2 separate regions of the Homo sapiens genome follow, and region 1 is linked to region 2. Evidence: fine-mapped expression QTL. A gene starts in region 2. The other region holds a variant in brackets. All regions are shown on one strand. Distances are between the middles of the regions.

Region 1 (11,755 bases), 320 kb after region 2:
GTAATAGCATATGTTTTTGTAAATAGAATATCCATATACAGTCATAATAAAACTGAAGAGCGATTTTATACTTTTCCATAAAGCCAAAGATTAAGGGTGTAATCACTGCTTATAATTTACTAGGAAACTATAAAACAGATAAAAGTAGATGAAAGGATATTACAAATATCTCAATAAGTCGTCCTCCGCAACTGACCCCTTGCTTTACACATGTTCAGACACTCTATACTAAACTCTGTTTATTTTTCTATTTTATAATTTTCTATATGATCGTAATTCAGCGTTTTCCTATAATATTATTAGTAGTGCTACCAACAGATATTACATTTTATGAAAAATTTTAAAAAGGGCACATGTTGCATAAAACTAGGTTTTGAAACAGCTGCTTATAATGCTGATATTTAGCACATGACTAGGTGGAATATGGACTTTTTAATGAATATTTTTTCAAAGTTAGGTAATTTCTCATCAGTCAGTTTCAAAAGCAAAGTTAAAATTTGTGTTTCAAAAAACTGGGTATGTTTGAAAATTGTATTTAATAATGGATTTTGAGAGTTCTCAATAGCAAATTGCTTGGCTGACTGTAGTTTAAGAAGTAATAATTTTGAAGAGAAGTTGAATGCAGGTACTTTCAAAGTGTTGAAATTTTTAAAGAAGAAAATTAACCTTTTCAGACTGTACACTTGTTCATCTTTTATATTCTTTTCCCTTTAAAAAAGAATTGTAGTAAGAAGGGAGATTACCTTCTGTCATTGATACAAATTTTCCACAGTATAAATGCTGTTTATCACATTTGTATAATATACACTTCCTATCAATTTTAAAAATTACATGTTACTACTATTTAACTCTGACTTAATTATTTTAAATATAAAATAATTCATTCTTTTATAAATAATCAAAACTATAGTTTTACTTTTCTTTCAAAATATACCACTGACTACATTACAGATTAGATTTTTTTTAGTATACCAAACATATTTTCATCTTTTGGAGTTATTGGAAGAGTAGCTGCTTACTGCCTTACATTTTAGATTTCTCTATATAACAAGCATTTTCATCATTTTGGCTTATTCGAGTAATTCTTAATAAATAATAATACAATATTTACAAATGAGATGTCATTTGCAATTTTAACACTTCATAATTTTAACAAAATATCTTTACTTTGAGTTTTTTACTTTCCTTTTGGTGTGACATTTTGACCTCCAATGTGATCTTCATTTAAAGGAAATATCAACGAAAATTCCTTTTTTTTCATTTGCTATAGATGTACATATAAGATTTACATGTGTAAGGAATATAGAGCAATAATGAATTGAGCTATTCCTCATAATCACTTCACTTAAGAAATAGGGGGCTGGGTGTGGTGGCTTGTGCTTGTAATCCCAGAGTTTTGGGAGGCTGAGGTGGTAGGATTGCTTGTGTCCAGGAGTTTGAGTCCAGCCTAACCAACATATCAAGACATTAAGTCTATGAAAAAATTAAAAAATTATCTGGGCATAGTGGCATGCACCTATAGTCCTAGCTACTCAGGAGGCTGAGGCAGTTGAATGGCTTGAGCCCAGAAATTCAAGGTTAGACTGAGAGCTATGATAGTGCCACTAAACTTCAGCCTGGGAAACAGAGTGAGGGCCCTTCTCTTAAAGAAAAATTGACTAGAATATGACTAATACTCTAGAAGCCCTCCTCCACATGCCACCCTTCCCAAATGCACCACTATTCTCTCTTCCCAATTTTCATTTTTGTATTTATTATTCCTATTCATACCAACACAATTTTACCAGATGTGTATGTATTTTCAGCAAATATTTTTAGTTTATTATGCACTTAATTGACACTATGGAAGAACAGCTTTTAAGATATTATTCCAACTTAGGGAATTTTAAGGAAATAAGACCTTTGTATATAAAAAGTTAAATAGGAATACCGATTTGCTTTTGATTAGTGTTAAATCACATAAGTTTAAATTTGTAGGAGATCATAGAGATCAGAAAGCCCAGTGGTTCACAAACTTTCTTTTTTTTATCAACAAAACCTCTTTTAAAAATATATAGCATAAGGAAGACGGAACCATAAAACTGAAATTACAGCAGCTCAACTGAATTGTGAGTTTCAACTGAACTCAATTTCAAACCCACAAATAAGTCAAACTCTTACTTTACTGAGAATATATTTGGACCACACAGAGTTTAAAAAACATGTTTAAATTTATTTAGCTTATTTATACCAGAACCAATATAAGAATCCATAACATTCTGCATTAGAATTAAGTACAAACACTTTTTCTTTCTTTCTTTTTCTTTTTCTTTCTTTTTTTTTTTTTTTTGAGACGGAGTCTTGCTCTGTTGTCCAGGCTGGAGTGCAGTGACGCGATCTCGGCTCACTGCAACCTCTGCCTCCCAGGTTCAAGTGATTCTTCTGCCTCAGCCTCCTGAGTAGCTGGGACTACAGGCACGTGCCACCACGACCAGCTAATTTTTGTATTTTTAGTAGCGACGGGGTTTCACCATGTTGGTCAGGATGGTCTCGATCTCTTGATCTCGTGATCCGCCCGCCTCAGCCTCCCAAAGTGCTGTGATTGCAGGCGTGAGCCACCGCACCCGGCCGTAGAATTAAGTACAAACACTTTCTATGATATTATACTAAATTAAAAACAGGAACTCAAAATGATACAAACTGAACTGAAATAAAATAAAATAATACAGTGAATGGAGTCCACAATTAAAATACCTGCAAGGACCTGAAAGGGAATGGAAATAGGTGAAGCAAAGATCTAAATGCATACGGACATTGTGTAAATTGGAAAGAATACTGGCAAATGGCACGCCTGTGCCCAGTCTAAAATGGGCAACTGCTAATCAATTCAGTCTAGCAGTGTCCATGTCAGAATGTAGAGCTATTTTTGGCCATATATTTTATTTTTCAAGAGGAACTTAAGAATCTGGAGTTGTATGTAAAACATCCCAGTGCACTATATATTTGCCTCATAAGTTGAGCACTTTTTTTTATGTGTGCATGTTGTCTACTGGTGAATCCCAAGCACTTGGAACAGTGCCTGATATATAGTAGGCAGTGATGTATATTTGGTGGGTAACTGGAAAAAGGTTTTCCAATTAAAAATTCTGTGCAAGCCTGAGGTAGGAGTTGGGCAGGACTTATTTCCCATTCCCAGAGGATAAAGTGAAGAAACTGGCAGGTACCAGCAGGCAGCGACCAACGGAAGTGAGAAAAACAGCAGAAACCAGCAGATGGCAACAAAAGTGATCCCCAGCAGCCCTCATTGCATATTAGCAGAAGCCACTCCCACCAGCACCATGACAGTTTACAAAGGACATGGCAATAACCCAGAAGTTACCACCCCTTTCCTAGAAAGTTCTAAATAACCTGTCTCTCAATTTGCATTAATCTGCCACTTAATTTACATGTAATTGAAAGTGGGTATAAATGGATATAAATACAGTAGCCAGCAGCCCATACCCTGCCAACTTTGGAGGCACTGCCTATGAGTTGTCCCTATTTCACAAAGCGCAGTAATGTTCACTAAAACATAGCTGTTTAACGCCACTGGCTCGCCCTTGAATTCTTTCCTAGGCAAAGCCAAGAATCCTCCCAGGCCAAGCCCTGATTTTGGGGCTTAACCTGTCCTGTATCAAACTAGCCAAATGTATCTCAGGCCTGAATTAGATCAATGGCTACCAGTTCAAATCTTTTGTTTTAGATATTAGAGAGGCAGGAAGTGACTCTCTACTGTGTAGCATGATACTCAGAGCCCAGGAACTTCTTCAGAATCCCAGTTTGACTTCCAAAACGCCAGTGTCTTGCTTTTATTTACTCTTGTGGGTGGCAGTAAGGGAAGGGAGCATATCTCCTTAGCAAAACATCTCATCAGAACACGGTCCATAGCACAAATTATTAATTAAAGACTTACGTGGAGGCTCAAATATAGAGCCAAAGCATAACCATTTAACAATTATCCTTCAAAGCAATTTTATTCTTGGCTTTTGGTGGAAAAAACTCTTAAAAATAAAATGATAATTCTACATATGGGATTTGTGATGCTATTTAGCAAGGATATGCTTTATTGCCTGACATCCCCTTTATTTTGGCAGAATACTATGAGATTCTCATTACGTTTCCATTTGCTGCGGAAAGTGGAGAAAAGTTCAGAGGGGGAAGACTAATTAAAAAAATGGTTGTCTACTAATCCATTGAACTAAGGCTTCTTAACAGTCATGCTCTTCTTAATAGTATGAACACACATTTTGTATTGATTGCAGAGAATAAAGAAAAAGAAATGACTTGTTTTGAACTTCAAAATGGAAAAAATGAATACAAAATCCAGATAAGCCTTTGGGCATACCAACTTTTTCGACTTGTATTATATAACAACAGTTGGCAAATGATTTCAAGTTGCTAAAGCATAGAAAATGATATTTATTTGATGAAAGCTAATAAATCAGACAGAACAATTAATGGATAATTTGGATTGAACAAGTATGAAAGATTCCACCAATAAGAACCCTCCTACCTAAAACTATGAGGTTTTTAAATGAAAGACTCTCCTAATGTCATAGATTTTCTCTACCTGTGCTTTATCTGAAAATAAAAATCACAGCTTTTCCCTTCACCTCTTCATTCTCTACTCCTCCTTATATTTCCCCTTTCCTTCTTCCTTCCTTCTCCTTCCTTTACTCTTTGTTCTTTTTATTCCTGTTTGTTCTGATTACCTGTGATGTTTTCTAAAAACATTAAAATTTTGGTCACCATTAATATTTTTTACAATGAATTAAGAAATTTATCTCAGAAACTGGATTTGAACCAAAGCCTTGTTTTGAACTTCTAATAAGTAGACTGAGGAACAAGCACGATTTTAAGGGCATATTTAATAGGCAAAATAAAAAAAACGCATAAAATGCCCAGTCGTTGATGAAAAAAATATATTTTTGTAATTGCTGTTATTCAGGTGCTTGAAGGCCCATGTTAAAGTATCACTGGAGAAGATAAAAAGCATACTTCCTCAATGTGAAAACCCTCAAAAGAAAGGGCTATAAACACTTTGTCCTGAATATTTGTTGTTTCAATTGCTGACGTTTAACTTTTCATCTGACAGCAATTCAAGTTCTGCGTACCACAGTGTTGTTGAATCTTTGAATCTGAAAAATATTTTCCTTGCAGCTGTGATAATAATGTATCTCCTGATAATGCATTTAATGTGGCAAAGACACTTTTCTTAAACACAGTGAAAACTAAGTGTTCATTTTGTCATTGTAAAATGAGACATGTTTAGTTGCTCCAAATTTTAACTTGGGTAACCTTGAGACATAGTTGCACATTTAACATCCTATATTTTGCTTGTCTTGCAGTCAAGTGAATTATCTTAGTTACTGGAGTGTTACGTGACACCAATTGTTTTGTTACCACTGCTTTAAAAATAGCTCTATCCCTAGACCCCATCAGTAGTGTGTCTTTTAGGGCCCCGATTTTTTTCTAATCTATAGGTTAGCCCTCAAGGCAACGTGGCCTCTTTCTGTTTACTTCTCATTATTCCTGTAATTCCAATTCTACATGTGACTCTTTGCTTTATTTTAAAACAGTTGTGCATTGCTGATGAGCCTTGAAGTCACCAGGGGTGGCTGGTGTCAATAGTGAGTCTGTACATGGCTATTTTTATCCATAAAGCAGTTTACTTTCTGTATGATGAAAGGCGTTAAAGTAAAACCTGCCTCCTATTATACCCTAGGGGTGTAATCAAGAGGGATTTGATCATAGCATACCAATTAAGCAGGCTACAGCAGACTGCTCTGGGTTGTACTAAGGAGTAGGGTGTTCTCCACAGATTTTTGAACCCTTTATTGCAAAAGCATCAGGGCACAGCACATCTAATTCTTTTCATCGCACAGCTGTGTACATAAACCTCTGTATACAGTTTCTGCTCAGAGGCTGTGCTCTTAGATTTAATTTTTCTTATAAGTCATTACAGCCGTGATCATTCATTTAAACCTCGGCAAGATAAGCATTACTAGTTCCCAGTAAACTAGATGATCTCTTCCTCTAGACTGTATTTTCTCTTATGAACAATTATAAGATTACAAGACTAGCAATGTTGCTTATTTACACTACACTACACACACACACACACACACACACACACACACGTTCATTCCAAGCCAGCAGCCAGCTCAGCATCCTTGAAAGCTCTCAACCTCAGCCGAATATATAAATATCAGAATTCTCTCTACCACCCTCAATTAGAAAATGTTCCAGTTCTGCTTTTAAACTTCCACTCCAATTCTTCTTGCTAAGGCCTGGAAGCCTCAAGGTTTCTTGTATTGCCTTATATACACCTGGATTATTCCTCTCTGTTGAAAACTATGTCCCATTGGAATGGGAGTGTCTGACCAGCTGGTGCCCAAGAATGCTCTCAGAAAACGATCTTCCACAAGCCAGAGCCAAAACCCAAACCCTTGACCCTTATCAACCTTGACGCCCAAAACTCCAGGTGTGGATTAGCACAGTAACCCGCAAACCCACTCCTACACGAAGGAAGATTTTTCTAGAACAACTACAGCTCTCCTTTTATATTTTTGGGTAATTCAGTTATGATGAACTGAACCAGAAGTATAAAGTATTTGCTCAGTTCAGTTCTTAATCTTTGTCATGGTATTACAATACTAAACCACTTGCTTTGTCACTTTCATATAGCTCATAAAAGAAAATATTACTGTATAAAATAGATTCTGTAGTCCTTCACTTGTTGTTATGGACTGACTATTCGTGTTTGCCCCAAATTCATATGCTGAAGCCCTAACCCCCAATGGGACGATATTTGGAGATGGAACCTTTGGGAATTAATTAGGGTAAGATAAGCACATGCAGGTGGGGCTCTGATCCGGTGGCCCGTGTAAAGAAAACACCAGAGAGCTTGCTCTTGCTTTGCCATGTGAGGACACAGGAGAAGGTTGTTGTTTACATATCAGGAGGAGAGCCCTCTCCAGAACTTGAACACGCTGGAACACTGACCTCGGACTTAAAGCCTCCAGAACTGTGAGAAAATAAATTTCTGTTGTTTAAGCTGCCCAGTCTATGGTATCTTGTTACAGCAGGCTGAAATGAGTAAGACACTTGTATTGTCCCTGCGGTTGACATCTGACTCTGTAAAAACACCCATGCATACACACACGTACACACAAAACAACAACATAACCAGTAAGATAGGTAATCAAGTATA[T/A]GGTAAATGCACCTGATTGCAATAATGTGCGCATACCCTTAGAATGACCCTGTACTGCAGACACACCTGAATGTGTTTTCCGAGCTACGGAATCTGGGAGTAGCCCAGCAAGAGAGCCCTTCCTTGTCTATGAGGAACATCTGAGCCCCAAGTGCATCCCGTGGAACACGGGCCATACATACAGCGGATTGAGGCCCCGAGTTTTGGGTTGGATGAAGGTTGCCAGGTGAACGTCATTAAGGGCAGAGGGTTAAGTAAAAATGCTATATAAACTGCATGCTGCCCGCAAGCAGCGTTGGTTTGCCCGCTCATCCCACCGCCGCCATCACTACCACTGTGCTGCGAGGCTATCTTGTCCAGTCTGCCACCACTGGATCGTTTCTACAGGTAAGGCACTTCTCCTGTCCAGCCCACCACTACTGAATTCCCTCCCCTGTATGTAAACCTCTAATAAAACCCAATGCCTCGTTTGCTGGCTATGGGTTTCTTCCTCAGTCTCTTGAACCTGATGCCTTCGCTATTGAGGGTTATAGGGGTTCAGTACAACATCATGATGTGAACAAACGCGTTTATTTGGGCAGATGTATTGGTCAGCTCTCAAAACAATAATATCAAGTAATAATCATTACCTCCAACTTAATGGTTTTAAATAGCATTAATTCTCATGGTCATGCGGGGTTTGGCTGACCTAAGTTGATCTAGATTTGGTTCTGCATCAGGCTGGTAGTTGCTAGGCTTGGCTTTCAGCGGCAGGTTTGGTTTGGATTTCTTTGATGTGTCACGTCCAGAGGCACACACTGGAATGGCACCGGCCACCCAGTGCATGTTTTCATAGGTTGTCACTAGATAGCAAGCCCAAACATGCCAGCCCATCTCAAGGCTCTGCTCCTGTCATGTTTTCTTAACACCCCGTTGACCAAAGGCTATCACATTTCCCACCATAGGCTAGATATGCCATCCTATTAAGTAGGAATGAGAAAGTGGGGACCAATAAATCAACCTACAGTAGGAAAAGTAGGGGATTATTTAGTAGCACAAACAGATGAGTTTCAGTGGGCTTGCTGCTTTTTTGTGGATATGGAAGAAATACCTAAAAAAAAAAATTTCCAGCTCCACTACAATATTTAAGAAAAAACTTAGGTGTGTTCATAGTTTACTACTTTGCTTAATAACCCCACTGTTTATCACAGCAAATTTAATCACCTCTGAGGGGTTTTAATGGCTTTGATAAGACAAAGAGTAAATTACTGAGGAGGAAGACGGTCACTTTCACATCCTGAGAGATGCTAACTGTGCAAGGTAATTCACATATATCTTGTAAACATGTTTGCAAACATATATAGGAGATAGGTGGTATTCTCATTTTTTAAGGAAAGAAATGGAAGACATGAGAGAATGAGTAATATGTTTAAGAGGACACAGCTGGAAACTGGTATAATCTGGCTCTAAATACGGGCTTTTGTGTTACATTGAACAGAGATAAATTCAGCTTATGTTAAGGAAGCATGGGGTAAAAAGGTCAAGAAACTGAACAACTGAATAACCAAATAAGTAGGCGAAACCATTTGGTTACTCAGTTGTCTGACCAACCGAATAATCAAAACAAAAATGTCACATTAGAAAACTACGATCAGTGTAATTTTATGAATAATTGAACTATTGAGACCATAGTGTAGCAGCTGATCTATCACGTCATGGGATTCCATCATTCATTCTCATGAATTAACTACTCTCAGTCCTTGCTTTTAGCATTACCTCTACTCCCTAATGATACATGATTTTTACTCTAACATAAACTTCCCAGGAGAAAATGTCTGATAAATATCATAAAATCATGAAAATATCTGATAAAGTCATCATCCTGCATCATGTGTGGGAGACTTAAGTTTGTAACTCTTCCCATTCCTTTAAGTTGGTTTTCAGCCTTGCTTACACGATCATTGTGGCCAGAGAGACAGAATGTGCCAAGCGTGTAGGCCTGAGCTGGGAAACAATGTCAATAAGTAATACAGTATAGGGGATGAGAAGTTTGCCAAATAATACTTGGTGTGTAATGTTATGAAAGAAAGGGGGCATTAGAGGCCGGGTGGCTCACGCCTGTAATCCCAGCACTTCGGGAGGCTGAGGCGGGTGGATCACGAGGTCTAAGAGATCAAGACCATCCTGGCCAACATGGTGAAACCCCGTCTCTACTACAAATACAAAAAAAAATTAGCCGGGTGTGGTGGCAGGTGCCTGTAATCCCAGCTATTTGGGAGGCCGAGGCATGACAATCGCTTGAACCCAGGAGGCAGAGGTTGCAGTGAGCCGAGATCGCACCGTTGCGCTCCAGCCTGGGCAAAAAGAGTAGAACTCTGTCTCAAAGAAACAAAAAACAAAAAACGAAAACAAACAAAACAACATGGCGTGGGGGGCATCAGAAACACACAATGGTACAGATTTAAAAGCTCCTCGGGTGATGCTAATGTGTAGCCAGGGCTGAAAACCTAAAAGAAGAATGTGCAGTAATGTTGCCAGTACTGGAAGGAAGTGTCTGAGTTTTGTCTAGTGACTGACAGAAGGCTATGAAACTGTAACAGTTGTAAGGGGTTGAGGGAAAGCCGAGGCCAGATCATGTGGATCATGTGCAAATTGTAGGTAAAATGTAAAGCTGTGAGTTCTGTGGCCTCACTGAGGAAGCATTTCTCTGCTTTTCAGGAAGTAACTTGGAGTTGAGTGCTCTATGATTTCCAAGTTGTCAGCTAACACATTGAATAACTGATGAATTATGGTTCTGTGGCCTTCATTTCTGTGTCACGTGGCTATACTGTTCATTGGCATATGCAGGCAGTAACCCCCAAACTATGACGCGAGAGGATGGCAGGATTCCAGGTCTGAAGAGAAAAAATGATTAGGCTGGGGAAGAATGATTTGAGGAACCTCAAATCAGACTATGGCAGCAACTACTAGGTGTAGGGCTTCATGCCATCCAGCCTTGGAGTTGTCAGTTTTCTATTAATCTTTGCTAACAATAAAATACTAATGGGTACATAATGTAGTGATTTACAGATGATAGACTCTCCTTATGTTTTCATTTTGTCTCAACAGAGTCCAGCATATTTCATCCAAATTTTACTGATCAGAGAATTGAGGTACAGACAGACCATGAAGGTCATGACAGTTGGAAAGTGTTGGAGTAGAATAAGGAAGCCTGATTTTTCTCATTTGTCCTACATCGCTTTATTAGATTGTCTTCTCCAGCCTTACCTCCCCGCCTTATAATTCTTGATTTTCATGAAACCTATTAAAGGGAAAGAAAAGGAAAACTAGAAAATTTAATTTAGATCACTTTTAAAAATCACTTTGCATCTTGGACTGTTGTCATAAGTTATAGGATTAAATCCTAATGATTCTAATGTTGTTAGGCCATCTTAATTTATATGATCCACTTACCTCTCAGTCTTCTCTCACTGGCTCACTCACCTGCCCTCTGTATATGAGGGGATTGAGAAAAGTCTGTTTTTCATTATGTGTAGATACACAGACTGGTGTGTATGTAGCAGGAATAAATGTTCGCAAAACTCAGATGTGGAAGAAGTAACTCTGAATTTTTGCCCTATTTTTGAACTGTACTCCAGGCCAGTGCTGTCCAAAAGAAATATAAGCTATATATGTAATTTAAACTTTTTGAGTAGCCACTTTAAAAAGTGAAAATAAACAGGTGACATTAATGTTTTATTTAGCTAAAATATTTCAACATGTAATCAAAAAAGACTTAATGAGACATTTTACGTTAGTGAAAAGAATGTACTAAATCATTAAGGTTGGAGGATATTTTACATTTACAGCACATCTGAATTCAGTTGCCATATTTTCATGGGTTAAAGTAAACTTGTTCTCCCAAACCAATGAAGTTATGGTTAATGGAAGAATATTAAAAACTGTTTGTTTTCAATATAAATAAAATTGAAGCAAAAATAAAGCAAAATGAAAATTTGGCTTCCTCAGTTATGCTAGTCCCATTTCAAATGTTCAGTAGCCACATATAACTAGTGGCTATCTTACTGGACAACATAACCCCAGATCATGATAAAACGTTCTGATTTCCCGAATTTCTTTTTTTTAGACAATCTGGGATGTTTCGCCTTCTTACCAAAGAAACAAAAAGGTGCTGGTACTTTTTGTTTGCTTGTTTTTCAGCAGTTGCCATTGAAATGTGTTTCTTTTGGAGTTGGATAGGAAAAACCTAGATTCTTCCTCCAAGGTGTAGTCTCAACTGTGCCCCAGGCATCACTGTTTATGATGGATTAAGGGTGTGGCTTTTCCCAGATAATGAGTCCCCCTCCCCCACCCCCCACAGGCCTTAATATCTACAGCTCCTGTCAATAGACTGGCCTTTCCTTCCCCGCGAAAAGTTTGAGTCCTTTAAGAATCTAGGTCTAAGGTTAATTTCAACGAAAGGTTTATTTTCTCTTTCTGCGAGGACCTATGGAACTACCCAGAACATATAAAGCAGTCCACAAGGCTCTTCAACAGCTTCGTAAC
Region 2 (11,755 bases):
TACACCTTTCTTCCTAATATTAGGATTAAGGCAAAGACGGTTGCTTTCAGCCCTACTATTATTCATAGTACTGGAAGTTCTAGCTAGTGTAAAAATGCAAGAAAAGTGGATAAAAGCGTACAAATCAGGAAGGAAAAGTTATACTGTCTCCATTTGCAGATGTTATGATGATCTATGTAAAATCCCAGGTATTCTACAAAGTTACTCTTAGAAATGATGAGTTTGTTAAGGTCTTAGGATACAAGATCAACTTATAAAAGTCAATTGCTAATCAATGAATATGAAGTTTCATTTATATAAGATGAATAAGTTCTAGAGATCTGCTGTACAACATCGTATCTATATGTAACAATACAGCATTATAATTTAAGAATCTGTTCGTTGGGTAGATCTCATATTAAATCTTATCACAGTAAAATGATTATTAAAAATTAATTGTATTTTTGTATACAAGCAATTAACTACTGAAACCCAAAATTTTTCACATAGTATCTTGCAGTCACTCTGAAACAATGAAATACTTATGAATCTAATAAAACATTTACCAGATCTATATACTACAAACTAAAAAGCTAAGGAAATAATGCAAAGACTTAAATAAACGGAGATATATACTGTATTAATGGAATTGGAGGATACAACATAGTAAATATATCAATTCTTCCAAAACTAATCTATAGTTTGAATGCAATTCCTATCAAAACATCAGTGAAACATTTTTGTCTATTTGGACACCCTCCAAATTGCTTGAATTCTATTTGTCTTATTTTTTCTGGTCCTAGTGCCTATAAACTCACTCACAAACTAGCATATTTTCCCATTGGACTTAACTAAAGAGATTTTTTAAACACCTAAGAAATATATGCCTTATAATATGGGTAACATTTCAACCAATATGGATCACTGTGGAAAAAGGAAGTAGAAATGATCCATAATGATTTTTTCCCTAATCAATAAATTTGTGAATTTTATATAAGTATATTACCTAATAAGCCTGTTTCTCTTCAACTTATTTGTCCTGTGAAGCTGCATTAATCATAATGCTTGGAATTATATTAAATAATCAAACAAGTTGGGAAAATGACCCTGCACTTCCAAAGTAATATAAAATAATGCCTTTAGGGTTTCCAATTATTTAAGAATTAACTCCTTGTTCACTTTACGTTTACCATATTCAGTTCTTTCTAATTAATATGCCATCTATTTAATAACACAAGGATGACTGGTTAATATTGGAATATAATCATGGGCCAGTCTTCATTTTACAACATGTATCATCTAAGTGTAGACAAAAAAAAGTAATTTAAAAAAATGTGTATGAGTTCACTGTAATAAAAATTATGCTTTATATTTTTGAAAAATGTATGTCTAATTAATTCATCTGTAAACAATTGTAATTTCATTAAAATTTTAACAAAATAATTTCAACTTTCATTTTGAATCGGGGGTACATGTTCAGGAGTTTGTTACAAGGGCATATTGTGTGATGTGGAGGTTTGGGGTACTGATGATCCAGTCACCCAGGTAGTGAGCATTGTACCCAGTAGGTAGTTTTTCAGCTCACACCCGCTTCCCTCCATTCCCCCTCTAGTAGTCCCCAGTATCTCTTGTTCCCATCTTTATGTCCACTGTGTACTCAGTGTTTTGCTCCCATTTATAAGTGAGAACATGCGGTATTTGGTTTTCTGTTCCTGTGTTAATTTGCATAGGATAATGGCCTCCAGCTGCATTCATCTTGCTGCAAAGTACATGATTTCATTCTTTTTCATGACCATGCAGCTAACCAAGGAGGTGAAAGAACTATACAAGGAGAACTACAAAACACTGCTGAAAGAAATCAGAGACAACACAAATAAATGCAAAACATTTCATGCTCTTGGATTGGAAGAATAAATATTGTTAAAATGGCCATACTGCCCAAAGCAATTTACAGATTCAGTGCTAATCTTATCAAACTACCAACGTCAATTTTCATTTTTCATTTTCATTAGAAAAGACTAATCCAAATTTGTATGGAACCAAAAGAGCCCATAGAGCCAAAGCAATCTTAAGCTAAAAGAATAAAGCAAGAGGCATCACACTACCTGACTTCAAGCTATACTATAAGCCTACAGTAACCCAAACAGCATGGTACTGGTACAAAAACAGACCATAGACCAATGGAACAGAATAGTGAACCCAGAAACAAAGCGACACACCTATAACCATCTGATCTTTGACTAAGTCAACAAAAATAAGCAATGGGGAAAGGACTTCCTATTCAATAGATGGTGCTGGGAAAACTGGCTGGCCACATGCAGAAGATTGAAATTGGACCTCTACTTTTCATTATATACAAAAATCAACTGACGGTGAACTAAAGGTTTAAATATAAGACCTCATACTGTAAAAAATCCTAGAAGAAAACCTAGGAAGTACCCTTTTTTACATTGGTCTTGGCAAAGAATTTATGACTAAGTCCCCAAAAGCCATTGCAACAAAAACAAAAATTGACAAGTGGAACTTGACTAAGCCAAAGAGCTTCTGCAAAGCAAAAGAAACATCAACAAAGTAAACAGACGAAGAATGGGAGAAAATATTCACAAAATATGCATCTGACAAAGGCCTAGTATCCAGAATCTATAAGAAACTTAAATCAACAAACCAAATACAAATACATTCATTAAAAATGGGCAAAGTATATGAACAGACACTTTTTTTTTTTTTTTTGAGATAGGGTCTTGCTCTTAGTCCAGGCTGAAGTGCAGTGGCACAGTCTCGGCTCACTGCAAACTTCACCTCCCCTGCTCAAGCGATTCTCCAGCCTCAGCCTCCTGAGTGGCTGTGATGACAGGCGCCTGACATCACGGCTGTATTTTTTTTAGAGATGGGGTTTCACCATGTCGCCCTGGCTGGTCTTGAACTCCTGAGCTCAAAGCGATCTGCCTGCCTCAACTTCTCAAAGTAATAGAATTACAGGCATGAGCTAACACACCCGGCCTGAACAGACACTTCTTGAAAGAAGACATACAAGCGGCCAACAAGCATATAACATTTTTTAACAACGTAAACATTTTTAAATGTGCTTCTTTTTACAAACTGGCCGAGTGTGGTGGCTCATGCCTATAATCCCAGCTCCTGGGGAGGCTGAGGCAGGAGGATTACTTGAGGCCAGAAGTTAAAGACCAGCCTGCGCAACATAACAAGACCCTGTCTCTAAAAAAAATATTAAATTAGCTGAATATGGTGGCATTCACCTGTAGACCCAGCTACTCAGAAGATTGAGGCAGGAGGATCACTTGAGCCCAGGAGTTTGAGACTATAACGAGGTATGATTGTGTCGCTACACTCCAGCCTGGATGACAGAGCAAGCCTCCATCTCTTAAATGAAAATTTCTTAAAAAGCAAAAACAAACAGGAAAAGAACGGGTTTTGGAAACTCTGCTGTTTTCCTTTTTTTGTGCAATCACATGCATAACCGACAGTAGTGCCATTATATTAGAAATATTAATATATCTAATCACAACACAAAGCACTGTGTAAAAAAGCCGAGTATGATGAAATAAATTAAAGATAACCTAAATATTGGACATATGTACTATGTTAATGAATTGGAGGAATCAATGCGGTAAAAACATCAATTCTTCCAAAATGTATTCATAATTTTAATGCAATTCCTATCAAAATTCTACCTGAAAGATATTCTGTAGATAGATCTGTAGATCTATTTGTAGATAAACTTATTCTAAAATTTATATGGTAAATTATAACCACACTCTGGGACATGAATCTAGAGGAATGAAAAATGAAAAACTACATGATTGTTTTGCAGCTTTATTTGTAGTGACCAAACCCTGGAAACAACGAAAATATCCCACAGTATGTGAATAAAGTAACTATAGAACATCCATGCCATGAACTACTACTCAGCAATAAAAGGAAATAAGCTATTGATGACAACTTAAATGGATCTCAAGTACAGAATGCCAAAAAAAAAAAAAAAGCCAATCTCAAAAGGTTACATACCGAATCATTGCATTTATCTAATATTCTTAAAATGACAAAATTACAGTGATGGAGAACAAATTGATTGGTACCAGGCTTTAGGGATATTTAGGGAGGGTGACTGTTGTGACTGTAAAGGGGTAGCATGAGGCAAATCTCTGTGGTGATGAAACAGGTGTTTATTTGTGGAGGTTGAGGTTACACAAATCAGTGATGAAATAGAAATATGTATACATATCAATGTCAGTTTCCTGGTTTTGATACTGAATTGTAGTTATTGTAGGATACTGAATTGTAGTTATTGTAGTTAATCTTTGGGAGAAACTGGGTGAAGGGTACATGGGATCTCTGTATACTATCCCCGCAAATTCCTGTGAATCTATAAGTATTTGAAAATAACAAGTTAAAATAAATTTTTAAAAATTCTGTGACAGTTATTAAAAATGGAAATTTGAGCAAGTTCCTTTATTATGGGGCTAATAAGACCTACAAGATGTAGTTATTCTGAGGACTAAAGGAGAAAGATAAGTGATTAAGGGACACAAGAAAGTACTGTGGTGACACAGTCTGAACTGGAGTTCAATTTGTTCGGTCTAAATTTTATTTTACGTGCCTTTCACTTTTCCAGTTATTGTAAGCATATATTTGCACCTGGATTATAAAATCTTAAGGGAAGTATATGCATTCCACACAATGCAGAAATCATTATAGGTGCCAAATAAATTCTGATTATCAACTAAGGCTGAATGGCAATTAAATGTATCTCAGGGCATTCAGATCTATCAGGATTTGGTGCTTTAGACATTACCCAGGACACATCTTTGTTACATTTAGAACCACGGTTGTTTTTAGAAACATACACTTTAGGGTTTCTCAAAGTTGACCATGCATTAGAATCACCGGTAAAACACAGAGTGCTGTGTCCCAACCCCAGAATTTCTGACTTTTGAGGTCTCGTGTCAACTTGCATTTCTCAGAAGTTCCCACGTGATATTGATGTTGGTTTGGGACCGACAAGTTGTATTCACGCCTTGGCCTAAACAAGGGTTTATGTTTGTAGAAAACTCACAGTGCAAGATACAAAGGGCACTTATACTCTGGGCAATATTGTACCTCACAGCATAGAGGGACACTGATGCTAACATGCAGACTTAGAGCCAAATCAGCCCCAAAACAATTTTTTCATTTTTTCTATGTTGTTTTATGAAAATTTTGCTTATATGCATATTTAGACAACCACACTGAGAGGAAAGGAGGTGACCTAGGGAAAAGAATGTTTTAAATTAAAATTAGGCCTTATGTTTTATCTCATACACCTTTTGCTGGGGAAAATAGCAATGTTATGACAATAATATTCTAAAACACAAAATGTACAATTAACTATTAAGGTAAACATCACAGTCTGACTCAATATTTTTTTAATTTTTATCTATTACTCATTGCAGTCGCAAGCAGTTGAATGTTTGACATAGAAAAATGAGTCTGTCACTTTAACAAATGGTACAATAAAAACACTCAAACAAAAATTTTAGTAGGGATTATTATAACTATAAAAAGAATATCTTTCTTTAAAAAATGTTTCCAATGTTTTCTATCAATTTTGGGCTCGCCTGTTGCATAAAAGTAATAAGGAACAAGATGAAGAAGCTTTCTATTGGCAAAGAATGATTTACATGCTGAATGACATAATACAACTGTATTCACTTAATACAGAAAACAAGCCTCTATTCAGAACCATTAAATGATCATTAACTCAATGTCTAAAAAAATGGTGTTTTAAGAATTGGCACCAGAGAAATGGAAGAAAGAATAATTTGTTAGTAAAGAAGTTTTAGCATAATTCACAACTGAAATTTAGGATTTGAGAAAAATTTCTTTCCTGCATTATAAGAGTATTCTTTATTTTAGCAGGAAAACATGTCCCATGAGACCTATACACACACACATTCTGCCTTCAGAATTCAGCTGCTGCATTCTGCTGCTGCTTCTCTTATTCAGACTGTTGGCATCATCAATACATAACTTTTGATTGAATCCCAAGGGGAAAAAATAACTTTGGTAGACAGTGGATACATAACAAATGCATGGATTATTCTGGGCATTCCTTTTTATTTGGTAGAGTGAAATTTTTGGTGTTGTTGAGAGGATAAAAAAGGCATTTAAAAGTCAATTTTGAATCCGGATTTTCTGCTCTGTTAATAAATTCACATGAAAGTTACAGAAAGTATTGTTATGCTTTTGTACTGAATAGTTTTTGTGTTTAGAAGGCTTTAAAAGCAAGTACTATGTCCACTGTGCTATTCTGGTTTGGATATTAATCAGAACACAGTTGAGCATTGTTTGAATTCACAGAGCTTGCCATGCTGGAAGCACAACCTTATATGTAGTGACCATGGACAGTCCTATTATGGGAAACCAACTTGAGAGAGAAGGCGGGTCACTTGCTTGTGCGCAGGTCCTGGAATTTGAAATATCCGGGGGCCTCTACAGAATCCTGGCATCAGTTACTGTGTTGACTCACTCAGTGTTGGGATCACTCACTTTCCCCCTACAGGACTCAGATCTGGGAGGCAATTACCTTCGGAGAAAAACGAATAGGAAAAACTGAAGTGTTACTTTTTTTAAAGCTGCTGAAGTTTGTTGGTTTCTCATTGTTTTTAAGCCTACTGGAGCAATAAAGTTTGAAGAACTTTTACCAGGTTTTTTTTATCGCTGCCTTGATATACACTTTTCAAAATGCTTTGGTGGGAAGAAGTAGAGGACTGTTGTAAGTACAAAGTAACTAAAAATATATTTTACTGTGGCATAACGTTTAGTTTGTGACAAGCTCACTAATTAGGTAGATTGATTTTAAATTATCACAGTAGTTTGCAAAGAAGCATAAATGTTATATATACTGCATATATATATGTATTTATTCAGGAATATATATTTTTCATTGGGAAAACTTTTCAACAGAAATGGAGTGTAAAAGTTTTTCTTTGCGATAGAACTAAACACATGATTTCTTGATTAACAAACCACTGCAGTAATAGAATATGCAGAATGTCATTTGACTATAACAGATTTATTTTGATTGCTGTGAGATAGTTTGTATATCTGAGTTATTATTTTGATTAGTTGATACTTCCGTATTTAGTAACAGTTACATAAAGGTTACTGACCTGACATATATTCTCAATTGAACTAACTACTGTATAGGAACTACATGGAGGCCTAAAAGTTAGAAAAAGTTTCTCTGACACATCATGGATAAAATAAAGAATAAAATGAGTTGGGACGGATAATTGAAGGATGTGAAAAGTATTGATAAAGATTTAATTTTAATGTTTCTTACTCACATTTACTATTTCAAATGCTCTTTTCTGTAGCATATCATGATAATTATTTCAAATAATGATGTGATCTATGCTATCAAATGATCAGATGATTTCTTGGGTAAACGACATACAAACTTGAGGAACTCCTAATTATATTTAGTAGTAAAGTCACCTTGTTGTTTCATGTCTATTATGAGCCAGCTTTTCAGTTCAATTTTTTAGTTTGTCTTTCATATAGAAATACAACTATTTCGTTTATTTTTAAGAAAGTCATGATGACTAATGAAGGATTTAAAAATGGACTGTGGCACAACAGTAAAAATAATATATGATAAGGACTGTGTGTCCCGAAGAGATGGGAGTTTATCTCTTCCCCACCCATCTTTGACTTGTGGAGTGTAGTTATTCTAAAATAGATATGAGGGCAATGCCTATAATTAAGAATGAAAAAATAAATCTCTCCAAATAAGTAATGCTCCACAACTACTAAAAAAAAAGGCAGAAGTTTTGCCACTGGGAAAACTTTGTGGAAATAAGTTAACATTGTCCATGTATTGAGTCACATTAAAAGCTACCAGACTTTATAATACAATATTTACTTACATTGTTGGCTTGCTTCATAAATTTCTTTTGGTGGACATCATTATTACTTTTAGATTGAAAAACTATTATATTTACTATCATTACAAATATATGCATGGCATATATCTGTTGTTTGCAATATACACACACATTTTTATTTTTTGTTTTTATTTCTTTGATATATGTAACATAAATACCATCAAAATCACTAGTGATTTTATATATATATATATTCTACATAATTAACATCATATACAAGTATATAGAGCAATTTTGAAAGAATATATGCAATTCTGCTGAAATTAAGCAAGGTAAATCTACACTCTGCTTTGTCATAGATATTCAAATAACTTTCAATTCTTAGAATGCGAAGAAAGGTAATCTTTTTGGGACATGCCCTGTAGGATTTTTTCACGCTGCATTTAAAAAATCATCAAGTAATGCCTATGCAACATGACAATGAGTTTGGTAAGAAAAAACGGAGATATACTCAGGGCTATATTATACATTAAATTTTGCTGTTTGACAACATACTGCTACTTGGATGTTTGACATTTGAATCCAGTTTGTAAATTTGCCGTAGTTTGATAAACTTACAAAAGTACGTTTTGTTGTTTTTTAACCAAAACAGTTACCCTTTAAAAGAGATCACTGTATTGTCAAACATATTGTATTGTTCACTTTTAGAATTACTCAAATAATGCATTGTAAAGAATTATTCAAATAGTGTACTGCAAATAGACATTTCATTTGAATATATTTAAATGATGTAAGTCATCTGAGGTCTAATAAAATCACCTTTTAGAATTTCATCTGCAGAATCTTTTAAAGACATCTTAACTACGAAAAAGAGATTGCTGATCTAAATTGATGATATACTGTTAATACAAAGCTTTTGGTGTATCTTACATGACATAACATTATGAAAAATACAATAGAGTATGTCATATAGATGTTACTCTAAACTTTAAAAAAAGACTACAAAGTGTTCTATGCATAATTACATTATTTAAGGGGAAAAAGGTGTTGGCTGACACTATTCCAGCTAGACAGTACTGAATTGCAAATTCATCATTTGGGCACAGATATTAATACAGCTTCCTCTTTATTCCTATAGCATTCATTTGAAATCCCTGTACTCCATGTCATTTGCTACATATGAAACAAATTGTCAAGTTTTTAACCACTTGTGTAGTTTAATAAAAGAGATTAAAATCATTGTCTTGGAAACATCAGGTGTTTTTCAAAATTCTATTTTATTATCTTTCATCAAAATTTTATCTCAAGAGTAAAACAAAGTCATTTCCCAAACTTTCCTTCTCCTTCCACCTTCTATTGTAATATTTTCCTAACTTATTAAAAATGATTTATCATACTTTTTCATCAACTCTTTATTTCATCACACATACAAGAAACACAGTATTTTGGTATGAGTATATATATTTATATATATGCACATTTATATGCATTCAAATCACAGGGTATAAAGTTTCCTAAGAGGGTCTAATTAGAAATTAACCTTTCTTTAAAGATAATTTTCTGTTCATTTTTCTAAATTTTCTATTTTAAACACACATCATTTTTTAAGGAATTGACAAATGAGACTAATGTACATTCCCTGTCTGACAACACAGAACGAACCAGGAAGAAAGGATTTATGGGGCCTGAGGTTATACAATTGGGGGTGCTATTTTAAGAAAAATAATAGAAAATTGGATACAGCCTTGGGAGGGGCCCCTCATGTAAGTAAGGCTTTAATAGTTTCTTGGGAAATCACCTCTGTATGAAGAGATGTGTTGACATTTAATCTTTTCCCAGTTACATTTTAAAATAAAATTGATGCTAGTTATATTTCTTTAGAGCATTTATTATTTCTCAAAGACAACCTTTTATTTAATGCAGATTAGAGAGTTAAAAGAATTTATAATGGTAGGAATTTGACATTTCTGCCTTTCATTCTGAAAAGATACATTGATTAAAGTGATGTCAAACTCAGTTAATGGAGGCGGTGCAGTTATTTGAAATATACAGGGTATATAATTTGAAGGCACGCCAAATCACAATGACAAGGAATAATGATGACCTTGGTTTATTTTTATACAGTACATTCAGGTTTTGATTGGATTCAGAGAGAGGCAATGGTTTTCTTTCTCACAAAGTCCTGCTATAGTCCTAGGAGGTTTGTGTTCTGTTATCAAGGCAGTTGGTTCGTATTGGAATATTTTCTGGGGAAGGTCATGGGCTGCAGTGTGGGAAATAAACGTTTTTATTAAATGCAACCAGGTTTCATGAAAATATTTCCCCTTGTAGAGTGTGCTCAATGCAGTATACTGATCTTCAAAAAACAAACAAACCAAGCAAATAAATAGTTTGTAGTCTTCACCTTTTCCCTACGTAAAACATCTATTAGTTAGACTTCCTTGGGGTTTCATGCTATAAAATATTGACATATGTTTGGAGTTCTGAAGTTTCATTTTAATACAGATATCAAAGTTAAAATGGCAACACCATGGGATAATTTATTATTTTACCAAGTTTGGAGGGTTTTTTCTATTTATGTCACTTATAGAATTGTCCCTAAAATCCTTGCAAAATTTCAAGCTCCCTCTACTTAATACTAAAAGTGAATGTGTCTTCCAGAGATTCTGATAACCCCTTCGAATGGGAGAGTAACTCTGCTATTTGTGAATCACTCCTATACTAAATATAGTTCCAAGATTAAAAGCTAAAATGATTTTGTTTATTTTTTCATGAAATTTTTTCATGAAAGGCTTGATAGTATAAAAAGTCTGTTTCCCTCATATATTACAGCATATTATAGCATTCAATGTGCCTTCTTAAACCAGATGGCTCCTCTAGAGATTATGAAATACTTTAACACCCAGGGCATAGCCTTTCTGTTTCCCCATTCAAGATTACTTCCTTGAATATGGCCCAACAAAAAGACCAAAAAAATACATTTGGCTCCAGCGTTTTAAGGGCATATAAATTTTCTTAAGCACAATTCTGATAGGCAGCAGACAAATGAGAATGAGGAAGGGAAATGGCTCTGCTGTCTTATGCTTAAAAGTGTCCTCATATAGAGAGAAACAACACACCCTGGGGCCTTTCGGAGGGTAGAGGGTTGGAGGAGGAAGAGGATCAGGAAAAGCAACTAATGGGTACTAGGCTTGATACCTGGGTGATGAAATAATCTGTACAGCAAACCCCTATGGCACAAGTTTACCTATGTAACAAACCTGCACTTGTAGCCCTGAACTTAAAAGTTAAAAAAAAATAAAATAAAAAGAGTCCTCATCTCACGGCCATACAACCTCTACCTCATTCCCATTAAAAACACAAAGATCAGTACTCCCTCTTTTATAGCTCACATCTTCTGTTTAGGCTGCCATTTTAAGGGATAATTTCTATTCAACTCTGAGCTCGATCTTTATTTTAATCTGATATCACTCGTTCAAAATACTTGGGAATTTCAGTAGGCAACGGAACACACAGAGCAATTTTCTGGAGGCCTACAACCTCTGAAGGTGACTTTGCGTAGTATATGTAATGATAGTAAGCCCTGAGAAAACCAATGTTCTTAGTAGTCTGGATTTGGTTTAGAAATCAATGTATTCCTGCTTTCTTTTGTGATCTTTTGCCTTCTCCCTCAATGCCTCACTTTCACTCTGTCATTATGAACCCCATTCCTCACTAATGGGAACTGGGGGAGAATGGACAATGATCCTTTAATTGAAATGGAGTTGTCATTTCCTTGCCATGCTGATAAAATGTTGTTGCTGTTGTTGTTTGTTGTTGTTCTTAAATGACTCTTTCAGAATTTTTAACTCAGTATTTTGATTACATACCATTTTAAGAAAATAATTGTC

What was found. PIP is the estimated chance that this variant, and not a neighbour inherited with it, causes the effect.
Region 1: its variant is fine-mapped to the expression of DMD in nasal epithelium (TOPMed, PIP above 0.99).

Annotation. Positions count from the first base shown.
Region 1 is chrX:32,890,248-32,902,002 of GRCh38, reverse strand. The region is part of intron 2 of DMD (dystrophin); the gene reads left to right. Among named protein-coding and RNA genes, the nearest start is that of MIR548F5, 250 kb to the right of the region's middle. The variant T/A (reference allele first, on the strand shown) is at 7,232.
Region 2 is chrX:33,206,278-33,218,032 of GRCh38, reverse strand. It overlaps DMD (dystrophin), which reads left to right and starts at 6,484. Exons shown (of 79, transcript NM_004006.3): 1 at 6,484-6,751. The coding sequence starts at 6,721.